Linked DNA regions of Homo sapiens: all the other regions are linked to region 3. Evidence: fine-mapped expression QTL. A gene starts in region 3. Each other region holds a variant in brackets. All regions are shown on one strand. Distances are between the middles of the regions. Region 1 overlaps LINC01128 (long intergenic non-protein coding RNA 1128). Region 2 overlaps LOC284600 (a long non-coding RNA gene). Region 3 holds the start of AGRN (agrin).

Evidence for each region. PIP is the estimated chance that this variant, and not a neighbour inherited with it, causes the effect. A credible set is the group of variants that fine-mapping cannot tell apart.
Region 1: its variant is the best candidate, but not a certain one, in a credible set for the expression of AGRN in whole blood (TOPMed, PIP 0.70).
Region 2: its variant is the best candidate, but not a certain one, in a credible set for the expression of AGRN in sigmoid colon (GTEx, PIP 0.74).

Annotation. Positions count from the first base shown.
Region 1 is chr1:852,993-857,111 of GRCh38, forward strand. It overlaps LINC01128 (long intergenic non-protein coding RNA 1128), which reads left to right. Exons shown (of 4, transcript NR_047524.1): 4 at 399-4,119. Among named protein-coding and RNA genes, the nearest start is that of FAM41C, 22 kb to the right of the region's middle. The variant G/A (reference allele first, on the strand shown) is at 2,093.
Region 2 is chr1:912,420-916,538 of GRCh38, forward strand. LOC284600 (a long non-coding RNA gene) reads left to right here. Exons shown (of 5, transcript XR_007065342.1): 2 at 1-3,052; 3 at 3,331-3,530. Among named protein-coding and RNA genes, the nearest start is that of LINC02593, 5.2 kb to the right of the region's middle. RefSeq lists enhancers at 271-771, 772-1,272. The variant G/GACTGCCCAGCTC (reference allele first, on the strand shown) is at 2,064.
Region 3 is chr1:1,017,701-1,021,819 of GRCh38, forward strand. It overlaps AGRN (agrin), which reads left to right and starts at 2,420. Exons shown (of 36, transcript NM_198576.4): 1 at 2,420-2,673. The coding sequence starts at 2,473. RefSeq lists a silencer at 1,734-2,183 and an enhancer at 3,692-4,119.

The sequences.
Region 1 (4,119 bases), 160 kb before region 3:
CGCTTTGTCCCCCAGGCTGGAGTGCAGTGCTGTGATCTCAGCTCACTGCAATCTCCACCTCCCGGGTTCTAGCTATTCTCCTGCCTCAGCCACCTGAGTAGGTGGGATTACAGGCGTGCGCCACCATGCCCGTCTAATTTTTGTATTTTCAGTAGAGACGCGGTTTCGCCATCTTGGCCAGGCTGGTCTTGGAACTCCTGACCTCAAGTGATCTGCCCGCCTCGGCCTCCCAAAGTGCTGGGATTACAGGCATGAGCCACTGTGCCCTGCCTAGCTCACTATCTTTCAATCAGTAGAGATTCTTTAGTTATTTTTTAACTCCATGGATCCCAAGCTTTGATTTTTGTTTTCCAAACAAATTGCATTTATAAATAATAATTTTTATTTATAATCAACAGACATCTAGGCTTGCTGTCAAGGCTTCTGATCAACATGAGATGACCGCCGTGTGGTAAACTGATGAACCCTGACCCTGATCAACATGAGATGACCGCCGTGTGGTAAACTGATGAACCCCGACCCTGATGAACGTGAGATGACCGCCGTGTGGTAAACTGATGAACCCCGACCCTGATGAACGTGAGATGACCGCCGTGTGGTAAACTGATGAACCCCGACCCTGATGAACGTGAGATGACCGCCGTGTGGTAAACTGATGAACCCCGACCCTGATGAACGTGAGATGACCGCCGTGTGGTAAACTGATGAACCCCGACCCTGATCAACGTGAGATGACCGCCGTGTGGTAAACTGATGAACCCCGACCCTGATGAACATGAGATGACCGCCGTGTGGTAAACTGATGAACCCCGACCCTGATCAACATGAGATGACCGCCGTGTGGTAAACTGATGAACCCCGACCCTGATCAACATGAGATGACTGCCGTGTGGTAAACTGATGAACCCTGACCCATTAGGCTTTGGCTACAGAATGTGGAAATAAGTTGTGTTACTACATGTGTGTAATCCTAGGGTGCAGGACACCGGCCGGGAGGTTCCATAGAGTGATGGGTTCTGCAGGTAACTCATCCTCTAGTCCTCTGTAAGCTCCTAGAAGGAAGAAATTATGTCCTTTAGACTAATAAAATTCCTCCAAACCAAATACAGCACCTACTGTGAAGACACAAAGATACTTTTAGAATAGTAAAAACTTTATCCATTGAGAAATTCCTTAATGAAACAGTATCCAAGAAGTCATTTGCCAGCAGATTTCTTAGAGGTGCGATAAAGAAGAGGACATTGCCAGTCGTCACAGCAGCTGCAATAGCTCCTCTCTATTGTTAAACAGTGGGATATCTTGTGCAGGTTTTCAGTTGACAATCAATTTTAAAGATTAGTTTCGGTCCCCATCAATCAATTATTTATTAACCCATCAATAAAAATTTAAATGCTCTGTGAGGTACAATAGCTATTAAAAGAGACAGAGGCACTTTCTGTGTCCAGAGGGGCTTTTAGTCTGCTCTGGAAAGCAAGATGCGTGCAGATGAGTGACGCAGTGCATCGTGTGGATGCAAAGGGAGGGACTCACATGGGAACCAGAGGAGCTACGAAGGGAGGCAGTGGGGACTGGTGGGTCGAGACCTGGAAATAACACATGAATAGGCAACAAAGGTTTCCTTTCCTCTTCCATGCACTTCAGTCCTTGAAAAACGTCTTACCACGGAATTCCACAGCGTACCAAGCGATTCCACAGCTTGATGGCACACTCTCCTTTCTCAGCATTCTTGAAAATGGCGTGTGAGCCAAGCCATCTTACTGAGAAATTACCTTAAACCATTTGATGAACCAAAAATATTTTGTAATACCCATCTCCGACATTAGGTAGGCAAATCACACAGAAACACCGAGGTCTTCTGAGTCATATTTATCTGAAAAATCACAGCTTGGGTGCATGTGAAGCCAGAGGAGCACTCCTGGGGCCTGCGGTGCCATCACTCAGCTCCCCTGGGCTTCACATGGCCATGGAGCACCCAGCAAGTGTAGGCTCTGAGCCTTCAGGGAGGGGCGGCATCAGCCAGCACCATCGTCTCCTGGGTCTTGTGCCTCTTCCTTGGTTGCGGTGTTGTCAGGGCCAGAATTGGGCAATTCCG[G/A]GTGACATCCAGGTGTGGCTGCTGACACGGAGCACAGGTGAGGTTCACTGAGGTAAGTGGGCCATGGCCTTGGGCTTCTAGTTCAGAGCACACCATCCACTCAGCATGTGAACCCAGCTCCAAAGCGTATGTGTGCATGTGTGTACCTGTGCACATTGCGCATGTCTCTGTGTATGCATGTGCTTTGATGCATGTTGATGTACGGGTGTATCTGTGTATTGTGTATGCACACACGAGCATATGTGTACATGAATTTGTATTGCACATGTGTTTAATGCGAACACGTGTCATGTGTATGTGTTCACATGCATGTGTGTCTGTGTACTGTGTGCAACAGTGTGTGCAAGTGTGTATATGTGGGTTTATGTTTGTACAGTGTGTGTAGTGTGTGTACACATATACACCTGTGTGCATGTGTACATGGTATTTAAGCATGTTTGCACGTGTGTTTGTGCTTGCATGTGCTGCGTGTTTGTGTTGGTGGGATGTGGGGAGGCTGCTGTGGAGACAAAAGCTGGAGAGAACTTGGTAGAGTAACCCAGGTCAGGAAATGGCACCTGCAAAGGAAGGCTGGAGTGCCTGGGATTCACGTTGAAATGGCCAATCCGTCAGCTGGGCTGGACACAGCCATCACGCTGGGCAGCTGTGAGGTTAAAACAGAAAGTCTGGGCTGTGGGGAGGCTGAGAATTGAGATGCATGTATGAGATGAGTCACGAGGGCCAAGTGGTGTGTGTGAGAAAGCAGGCACAGCACCACTAAACACTAAGGAGATTTCAGGGGAGTTACGGGTGGAGGGAGGACATCAGATCTACCCTGGAAGTTAAACGTGTTTCGAGTGCATTAAATACTATGGGCCACAGACGCCTTGTCTCCATATCTACTCTTTTATAAATGAAGTAAAGTTCTTGGGAAATACTTTTCTCACTCTAAAGCTCACAATCTATCTTGCAAAAAATATTTTAAATTCCATCTCAAATAAGCCAGGGTGAAAAGGGAGCCTGTGCACCAGACACTGCCAGCCTTGCCTGGCTCTCGCCTTCTTGCTCTTCCTTCCCCACCTGCTGGGGATTTTCTTAACGATGGAGATGGGTTTGGGTTTGTCCTGCTGTGCTCTGCTCCCCATTCCCGGATCCAAGGTCCTGCCTCTGTCCTGTCCCCTGAGCCACCTCAGGGATGCAGGGTCCCCCACCTGGTCAAGTGCCCAGTGCTGTGTTGTCATTTGCAAGTTCTTCCTGTGACTGAACTCCAAATGGCACTGGGACTGCTGACTCCACCCACTGGACAACCCGTGTTCTTGCTTTTGGGGTTTCTGAAACAGCCCCAAGACTCTGGGCATCTTGATTTTGCTCCCATTGCTTCTCAGGACACCCTGCTCCTGTGGTTTGCAGCCCCGGCCTTCTCTTCGAGGACGCCTCTGCTCTTCTGCCTCACACTCGGATTGGACCTTCTTCAGCACAGCCAGTGGCCGAGGCTTCCTCCCTGGGGCTCAGTGGAGCAGGACAGATGCTGCATCCAAACTCTTCCATTGGGTTCCAGTCTGTTCCAGTCATGCCCTTGAGCCTCTAAAGCTCCTAGGTGAGAGACGTAGCAGCTGACAGCACTTCCCACTTGATTTGGGTGGACTCCAGCCTCCCCAGCAACAATAAGAGATCAAAAGCATCGTTGAGGAAGCAGCTTGCTGAAACGCTGAGTGCCCGCCACTCTCAGGTCAGGTGGGACCGGCAGGCCAGCATGAGTTCCTGAACACTTGGTTCTCAATACTGGCCACAGCCACACTGTAAGGGGAAACAAGAGGGCACTGTATGCAAACATCTCTTGAACTCTGGAGTCTGCTCACCTTCCTGCCTCAAGCCCCTCTCCCACGTGGTCCAGTCACCATTCTCCACAGAGACTACCCTAAAACCCAGCGACTCTCGTGTGCCTGCAGAATGGCACAGCCCGTTCTCATAGCAGCACTCCTGTTTAATCAGAGGGATGTTAACGACCAAGTCATATTTGCTCGATTTGTGTTCAACATATTTCATTT
Region 2 (4,119 bases), 110 kb before region 3:
AAGACCTCCTGAGTGCCGGCTGGCCCCTGGAGCAGAGATGAGACCCCTGTGGGGCCTACAGTCCAGTTATGAAGGCAGGGTTCCTGTGTAAGCCAGCAGGCCCAGTTCTGGAAAGGCCAGGATGTGGGTTCAGAAGCTCAAGGACAATGGACTCATTCTGACTGGAGGGATCCAGGAAGGCTTCGTGGAGGAAGTGGCATTTGACATTGGCATCAAGGATGAACAGGAATAGAGAGAGGGGACTGGTGTCTGCGTGAAGGATCGCCAAAGCGCTGTTCTGGGGTGAGGGCGATCAGCCCCTCCTGCCCCTCCTGAACTATGAGGCTCGGGAGCCTTTGGCAGAAGGTGGCTCTGCACGCCCCAGGTGCAAGCTTGGAGCTTCCTTTTCTGCACTCCACAGCAGGAAGAAGGGCAGTGTGAACTGCTCACCACTGTCTTCCTGGGTTTGCAGCTCTGCGCCTGGCACAGAGACAGGCTCAGTGACGGTTGAAGGAATCGGAGAAATAATGAAAAGTGTGTTCATCCTGCAGGCAGCAGAGCCTCGGGTTAACCGTTAACGTCAGGAAATGACAGATCCAACGCTCCTGCTTGGGGCAGCGTGGAGGCCAGCGGAGGAACTGCAGGAGCCTAAAGGAGATGGCGCGCGGGCCTGGCTCAGGAGAGCAGCCGTCTGAAAGATGGCGGCGAAGGGTGCGGGAGGAGATGCCCCGGGCAGGGGCTTGGCGGGGTCTGGCACCAAACTTCCCAAAGCAGCTGCCTCTGTGAACTGTGCCTGGCAGGGAGGGAGCCACACCGGGAGTGACCCTAGACGCTGGCTCCCCAGGGGTGACTGGAGGCAGTGTCTCCCGCCCATGTGGGCCTCCGGCTTGGGGTCCCCAGAGCTCTGCCCTGCTGCTGGCTGCACTGAGAGAGGTGGCCTTCTGAATGGGCCCTGTCCCCGGGGAGCCTCTGGTAAAGAGATTCACCTGCACCCTCAAAACACGCCATGCCCATTGGAGGCTCTGGGTGCAGGCTGCCCCTCAAACAGAGAAAAACCACACGCTGTTTAAGACCCAAACCAAGGAGACAGCCCCTCATGCCCCCTTCTATCTCCCCTTCTGTCCAGGGCCCCCTGCCTGCTCTGGTCCACCCCGTCCTGACCCCCTCTGCCTGTTCATCTGAGGGCCGTGAGCCAAGGCCTGGGCCTGGCCAAGGGTCAGGGATCCTGGGACCTGCTTGAGACCATGCCCCATACACTCCTTCGGCCAGAAGGTCAGCCGTAGAGACAAACCCCCACCCTGAGCCCGCAGTGTCAGCAACGCCCTGTCCTCAGTGCCAGGCAGTGTCAGGCTGAGACCCGGGCCACCTGATCCAACGTCCACTCCAAGCAAGCCAGAGCCAGGTGCTGCCAGCCTGCCCATGTGCACACGTTAGCAGACAGGTTTCCTGGTGTGGCACACACGTGTTATGACCGCGGCTGCTGCCCCCAGCCCAGAGTGCACTTCCGGGTAATCCAGCACCCTGAGGCTTCACTGCTCTCCTGAGAGTTTTCTAAGATTAAATCTCCTTCACAATGACAGCCTCCTGTCACCTGGGCCCTGGTGACAAAGCCTTTGGAGAGGCAAGGACCCAGCCGGGGCATTCACAGTGGGCATGCTATCCACCCTCCGCCCCTGTCCTGGCCCCCACAGTGGAGCCGCCACCTTGGGTAACAGGGGCTGCCTGAGGTCCTGGAGAAGGAAGAACCAGGTGGCCCACCTTCGGTGCACAGGGAACAGCAGGGACCTGACGGCAGCCCCCGCACCCCTCCCTGGGCTGAAGTTCAGGCTGTCTCATCCCTTGCCAGGAGCTCAGGGCTGAGCTAGGTTGGCAGGGGATGGGTTGAGGGTCTGTTGTCCAGCAGATTGCCCGGGCCCCACCCAGGCCACTCAGAAAACACCTGTGAGAGCCCCGCAGGCATGCAGGGCACTGTCGTGAGCACACCAGTGGGGACAGACGTCCAGGCAGGAGGGAGCAGCCAGACCCCCATCCCGCCAGGGTCACCAGGTGAGCAAGGCTGGGGAACAATGGAGGCGGAGCCCCGC[G/GACTGCCCAGCTC]ACTGCCCAGCTCACTGCCCCCAGTGTCCAGGCTGTGGTGCAGGCGTGGGGACCCAGGTGTGTTCAGGGGTCTCCTTCAGGGAAGGAGACCAAGCTGGGAGTCTGGGGAGGCTGAGGTGTGAGGTGACAGCAGGTAAAGAGTGAGCCACAATCAGCATTTTCACATGAAAGGAAACTACAGGCCTGGGCGCAGTGGCTCACGCCTGTAATCCCGGCACTGTGGGAGGCTGAGGTGGGAGGATCACCTGAGGTCGGGAGTTCGAGACCAGCCTGACCAACATGGAGAAACCCCATTTCTACTAAAAAAAATACAAAATTAGCTGGGCATGGTGGCGCATGCCTGTAATCCTAGCTATTCGGGAGGCTGAGACAGGAGAATCACTTGAACCCGGGAGGCGGAGGTTATGGAGAGCCAAGATCGCACCACTGCACCCCAGCCTGGGCAACAAGAGTAAAACTCCGTCTCAAAAAAAAAAAAAAAAGAAGAAAGAAAAAGAAAAAAAGAAAGGCAACTACAGAAGGTGAGGAGAACCACCCGAGATCACCAGAGGGAACCGTGGAAGGTCCGTGGTCCACCAGCCAGGCTGGGGCACCTCAGCCCCTGGGCAGAGCACCAAGCAGGGCCGTGCCCTGGTAAAGGAGGGCACAGTCAGCCCCAGACTACAAGCTGCCTTGGTCCTCCCAGCAGGGCTTAAAAGCAAGACCCCAAAGGACCAAACAGCTTCCAAGTAACTTCCTGGAGTCCTGAGCAAAGTAAGCTTTTCTCAGCTTTGCTACAAAAATAGTCAGCACCCAGCAAAATTCACAATCCCTGTCACCCATTCAAAAATCACCAGGCATGCGAGGAAGCAGGAAAAGGAAAATGCACCCAGAAGAGAAGGAGCACCCATCAACGGGGCCGCCTCAGAAGCAACAGACGACCGGGCAAGTCCAAGGGCACCGAGGCACCTGCCACCACTGCGCCCAGCACTCCCGAAGCCAGAGGGCAGGTGGGACATAGGTGGGGACGTTCTGAGCAAAAACGCATGCGGCCAAGCTGGGGTCGCCCGTGGGAAGAGGGCGAAACGCTTGCACGTGGGTAGGGCAGTCTCTGCAAAGGGCTGTGTGGGCTCCGGGACCAGATGCTGTGAGGGCCTCACCAGCTGCGAGGTGGCAGGACCAGATGCTGTAAGGGCCTCACCAGCTGCAAGGTGGCTGTCTCTGCCCCACCCCACACGCTCAATGCATGTTAATTTCATCTTGTTTCATTCTCATTCCCATTTTACAGATTGAGGTTCAGAGAAGTCAGAAGCCTTCCCAAGGCTGCACAGCCAGAAGTGGGCACAGCGTCCTGGGGTGAGGGCTCACACCATCTGCGCCACCTGCCCTCCAGGTCCCACCATCCTCACAAATTCAAGGCAAGGTTCTGGAACCCCCAGCCCTCCAGAAAGGGGAAGCTGAGCCCAGGAAGCACATCTGAGAGTTCGGGTCCGTGAGTTTACCCTGCGCTCACGCCGATTCCTCCTGCATCCTCTGTCGGGATGTCTGGATTCCAGAGTCCCCACCCTGATTTTCCAACCTTGCCTCAGCCTTGGCTTCTCCCTTTTGGGGTGGGACAGGGAACCCCAGCAGCAGGTGTATGAGGGCATGAGAGGGCAGGAGGTGCCCTATGCCTACCCGCCAGACCAGGGCCCCAGCCCTGGACACAGGGAGAGAGCATGAGCGCTGTTCCTGCTCCCACTCCCTCATCTGAGCAGGTGCTCCCAGGTACAGGTGCCGAGTCCCACCCAGAGGGGCCCTGCCACAACCAGAGGACTGACAAACCCAGACACAACTGTCTCTTCCCCCTGGTCAGGGTCTGGGCAAGGGTCCCTCTGGGCTGCTGTCCATGCTGTGAGTGTCCGTGCTGTGGGCCACTGCCGTGGGTGTCCGTGCTGTGGCCTGCTGTCGTGGGTGTCCGTGCTGTGGCCCGGTATGTGAGGTTGTGTTTCCAACAGGGAGTAATTTGGCTTTGGTTACCTGAGGGTCTGAGGACAGGCACTAAAGCCCCACCTTTCTGGCTTCCAGAGTTGCCGGC
Region 3 (4,119 bases):
CTGAGCTAGACACAAAGGTTCTCCACGTCCCCACCAGATTAGTTAGATACAGAGTATCCACACAAAGGTTCTCCAAGGCCCCACCAGAGTAGCTAGATACAGAGTCCACTGGCACATTCACAAACCCTGAGCTAGACACAGGGCGCTGATTGGTGTATTTACAAACCTTGAGCTAGATACAGAGTGCCGATTGGTGTATTTACAATCCCTGAGCTAGACATAAATGTTCTCCAAGGTCTCACCAGAGTAGCTAGATACAGAGTGTCCACTGGCGCATTCACAAACCCTGAGCTAGACACAGGGTGCTGATTGGTGTATTTACAAACCTTGAGCTAGATACAGAGTGCCGATTGGTGTATTTACAATCCCTGAGCTAGACATAAAGGTTCTCCAAGGCCCCACCAGAGTAGCTAGATACAGAGTGTCTGTCTATTGGTGCATTCACAGACTCTGAGCTAGACACAGGGTGCTGATTGGTGTATTTACAATCCCTGAGCTAGACATAAAGGTTCTCCACGTCTCCACCACTCAGGAGCCCAGCTGGCTTCACCCAGTGGATCCCGCACTGGGGCTGCAAGTGGAGCTGCCTGCCAGTCCTGCGCTGTGCACCCGCACTCCTCAGCCCTTGGGTGGTCATGGGACTAGGCACGGTGGAGCAGGGGGCAGCGCTCATCGGGGAGGCTTGGGCCGCACAGGAGCCCACGGAGGGGGTGGGAGGCTCAGGCATGGTGGGCTGCAGGTCCCCAGCTCTGCCCCGCCGGAAGGCAGCTAAGGCCTGGCGAGTAATCGAGTGCAGCGCCAGTGGGCTGGCACTGCTGGGGGACCCACTACACCCTCCGCAGCCGCTGGCCCGGGTGCTAAGCCCCTCATTGCTCCGGGCCGGCAGGGCCGGCCGGCTGCTCCAAGTGCGGGGCCCACCAAGCCCACGCCCACTCGGAACTCCAGCTGGCCCGCAAGAGCCGCGCGCAGCCCCGGTTCCCGCTCATGCCTCTCCCTCCACACCTCCCTGCAAGCTGAGGGAGCCGGCTCCCGCCTTGGCCAGCCCAGAAAGGGGCTCCCACAGTGCAGCGGTGGGCTGAAGGGCTCCTCAAGTGCCACCAAAGTGGGAGCCCAGGCAGAGGAGGCGTGAAGACCGAGAGAGGGCTGTGAGGACTGCCAGCACGCTGTCACCTCTCAGCACCATCTCAGCTCACTGCAACCTCCGCCTCCTGGGTTCAAGCGATTCTCCTGCCTCAGCCTCCCAAGTAGCTAGGACTACAGGCGCCTGCCACCACACCGGCCAATTTTTGTATTTTTAGTAGAGACGGGGTTTCACCATGTTGGCCAGGCTGGTCTCGAACTCCTGACCTCCCGTGATCCACCTGCCTCAGCCTCCCAAAGTGCTGGGATTACAGGCGTGAGCCACTGCGCCCGGCCCATCCAGCTAATTTTTAATTTTTTTGAGAGATGGGGTCTTGCTATTTTGCCCAGGCTAGTCTCGAACACCCGGTGTCAAGAGATCTTGCTGCCTCCGCCTCCCAGAGTGCTGGGATGACAGGCGTGAGTCACCACGCCCAGCCTAGACACAGTTCTGAAGGGACAAAGGGGGCCTCCGCTCCCTCCTTTCAATCTTCAGCTAGGCCAGGCTCCCACTTGGGTCCTCCAGCCCTCAGTTTCCCCCTGCACCCAGCCAGGCCAAGCTGCAGAGGCGCCCGGCCCAGAGCTGGGAAGGGGCGTGGCGGGACCCGCGCTTGCAGCCGCGGGACGGAAGGGGGCGCGAACCTCCCCGCGGCGGGGCCTGGGGGGGCGGGGCCGGGAGGGGCGGGGCCGCGCCCCGTGCTGGCCAATCAGCGCCCGCCCCGGCACCGGGACCCGCCTCCGCGCCGCAGCTCCCGGGGGGTCCGGCCCGGCCGAGCCTCGGTGTCCGGCCCCGCGGGGGAGGGGCGCGGCCTGCGGAGCGGGATCGGGGCCGGGTCTGGGGCCCCTCCCGGCGGCCTTCGAGCCCTGCCGCCCGGCTCCGCGCCGCCCGGAGCCCCTCGGCAGTCCCGTCACGTCTCCTCCAGATTAGGCATTAACTCGGGTGCAGCCGCACTTCCGGGGGGCCGCGGCGGGGGAGGGGCGCCTGCGGGATCCAGACCCGCCCCCCACTCTCCTCTCCCCGCCCCCTCCCGGGCCGCCCCTTTCCCGCCCCACGGCCGCGCCGGGCGCTGCGTCCCGGGGCTTTGTTCGCGGCGGCGCGGGTCGCCGGCCTCCGGGCGGGCCGGGGGAGGGAGGAGGGAGGGGGCGGGAGGGGGAAGGAAGGAGGAGGGGGAGGAGGAGGGCGCGGGGAGGGGGTAGGGGGGCGGGGAGGAGAGAGGGGGAGGGGCGCCGCCCTGGCCCCGCCCCCCCCCGCCCGCCCGCCCGCGCTCCGCCGCCTCCGGAGCTGCGTCCCGTCCTGTCCAGTCCCGTCCCCGGCGCGGCCCGCGCGCTCCTCCGCCGCCTCTCGCCTGCGCCATGGCCGGCCGGTCCCACCCGGGCCCGCTGCGGCCGCTGCTGCCGCTCCTTGTGGTGGCCGCGTGCGTCCTGCCCGGAGCCGGCGGGACATGCCCGGAGCGCGCGCTGGAGCGGCGCGAGGAGGAGGCGAACGTGGTGCTCACCGGGACGGTGGAGGAGATCCTCAACGTGGACCCGGTGCAGCACACGTACTCCTGCAAGGTGCGCCCACCCGGACCCCGGCCTCCCCTCGCGACGCCTGCCGCCCCGCCGGGACCCCCGCCCCAGGCCGTGGGAACCAGCCCCGGTCGCTCCGCAGCCCCCGCTCCGGCTCCCTTGGCGACCGCCAAGCCCCGGGAGGGGGGGTCGCCGGGTCCCGGGAAACTCGCGGGCGCCGGGGAAAGTTGCTGCGCCGCCGCCGTCCTCCGCCCGCCGCCGCCTCCCTCCTCGCGGAGACAAGTGCACCTCGCCCACGGACTGCGGCTGCCGCGCGCCCTCCCTACCGGCCGAGAAGGAGAGGGGCCTGGGGAGGGGGGGCCTTTGCCCGGGCGGGGAGCGGGGGCTGGGCCTGGGATCCGCTTGTTCCCCTCCCCAGAGGCCTTTCCCGGGGCGAGAGGGGTTGGTCAGGAGAGAAAAAGGGGCGCACAGCCTGAGCTCCCAACCCCGGGAGCCAGGTGGGGGGTGCCGCAGTGGTGCGGGGGGGGGGCGTGCAGGAGCAGAGAGGTGGGCGGGGCCGTCACCGGGCCTCGTGTGCTTGGGGGCAGGGCCGGTGCCCCATCGCGCTCCTGCGGGAACCGGGGCTCCCCACCCCGGGGAGGGGAAGTTTCCCTGGTTTCTCCTTCAGGTGCTTCTGGGAGCCCCCGGGGTAGGTACGCTGGGACCCCCACCATCTTCTCCTAGTAGGGGCTCGGGGGACCCAGAGCCGGCGCCCGTGTACCCCCAAAACCATCTCCTGGGACCAGAAATCCACTCATTTCCCTCCACGGAGGTGGAGAAGGTGGCAGCTTCTTTCAGACTGGCCGGTGCGGGCTACAGCTGGGCTCCCCCGCCGGCCCAGTCTCCTCCACAGCGGCCAGGGCACTTTGCCAGGCCCCTGCAGGATTTTCCCGACTTCCTCCCCGCTGCTCCTGGGTGTGGCTGGGGTGGGGGAAGGCGATGAAAGCCACCAGGCCCTCCCCCTGCCTGGGTCATCTGCCTCCTGGAGCCTACTGTTGGGGGGCGTGGAAGAGGCTCTGCCTGCGCAACTGGAGGGGGTCCCTGCGGATGCCGCAGTCCTGAGGCTCCCAGCAGGGGCTGCGCAGTGGACAGGCCAACCATTGTCTCTCCCCCCATCCGGCAGCCCCAGCCCCCCAGATCTGAGGAAGGGGCTGCTTCTCCCGGCTTTGTTCTCAGGGGAGTGCGTGAGTGCGTGGGTCCCTGTCCCCGTGAGGGCCGCCAGGTCGGCTGTAGCCTTTACCACAGGCCACCGTCAGAGCAGCTGCCCTCAGGGCCCCAGGAGCTGAGAAGGTGGAGGGTGGGGCACCCTGCACTGCCCAAACTTGATTTCGTGGTTCACAGGCTGCCCTGAGTGCACAGACTGTAGAAGCCCGAGGAAGGGGCGTCTCAGCCCAGCCACAGGGCCAAGCTGGCCCCTTACCCCAACGCCCCATCCCCCTCCTCCACTGCCCA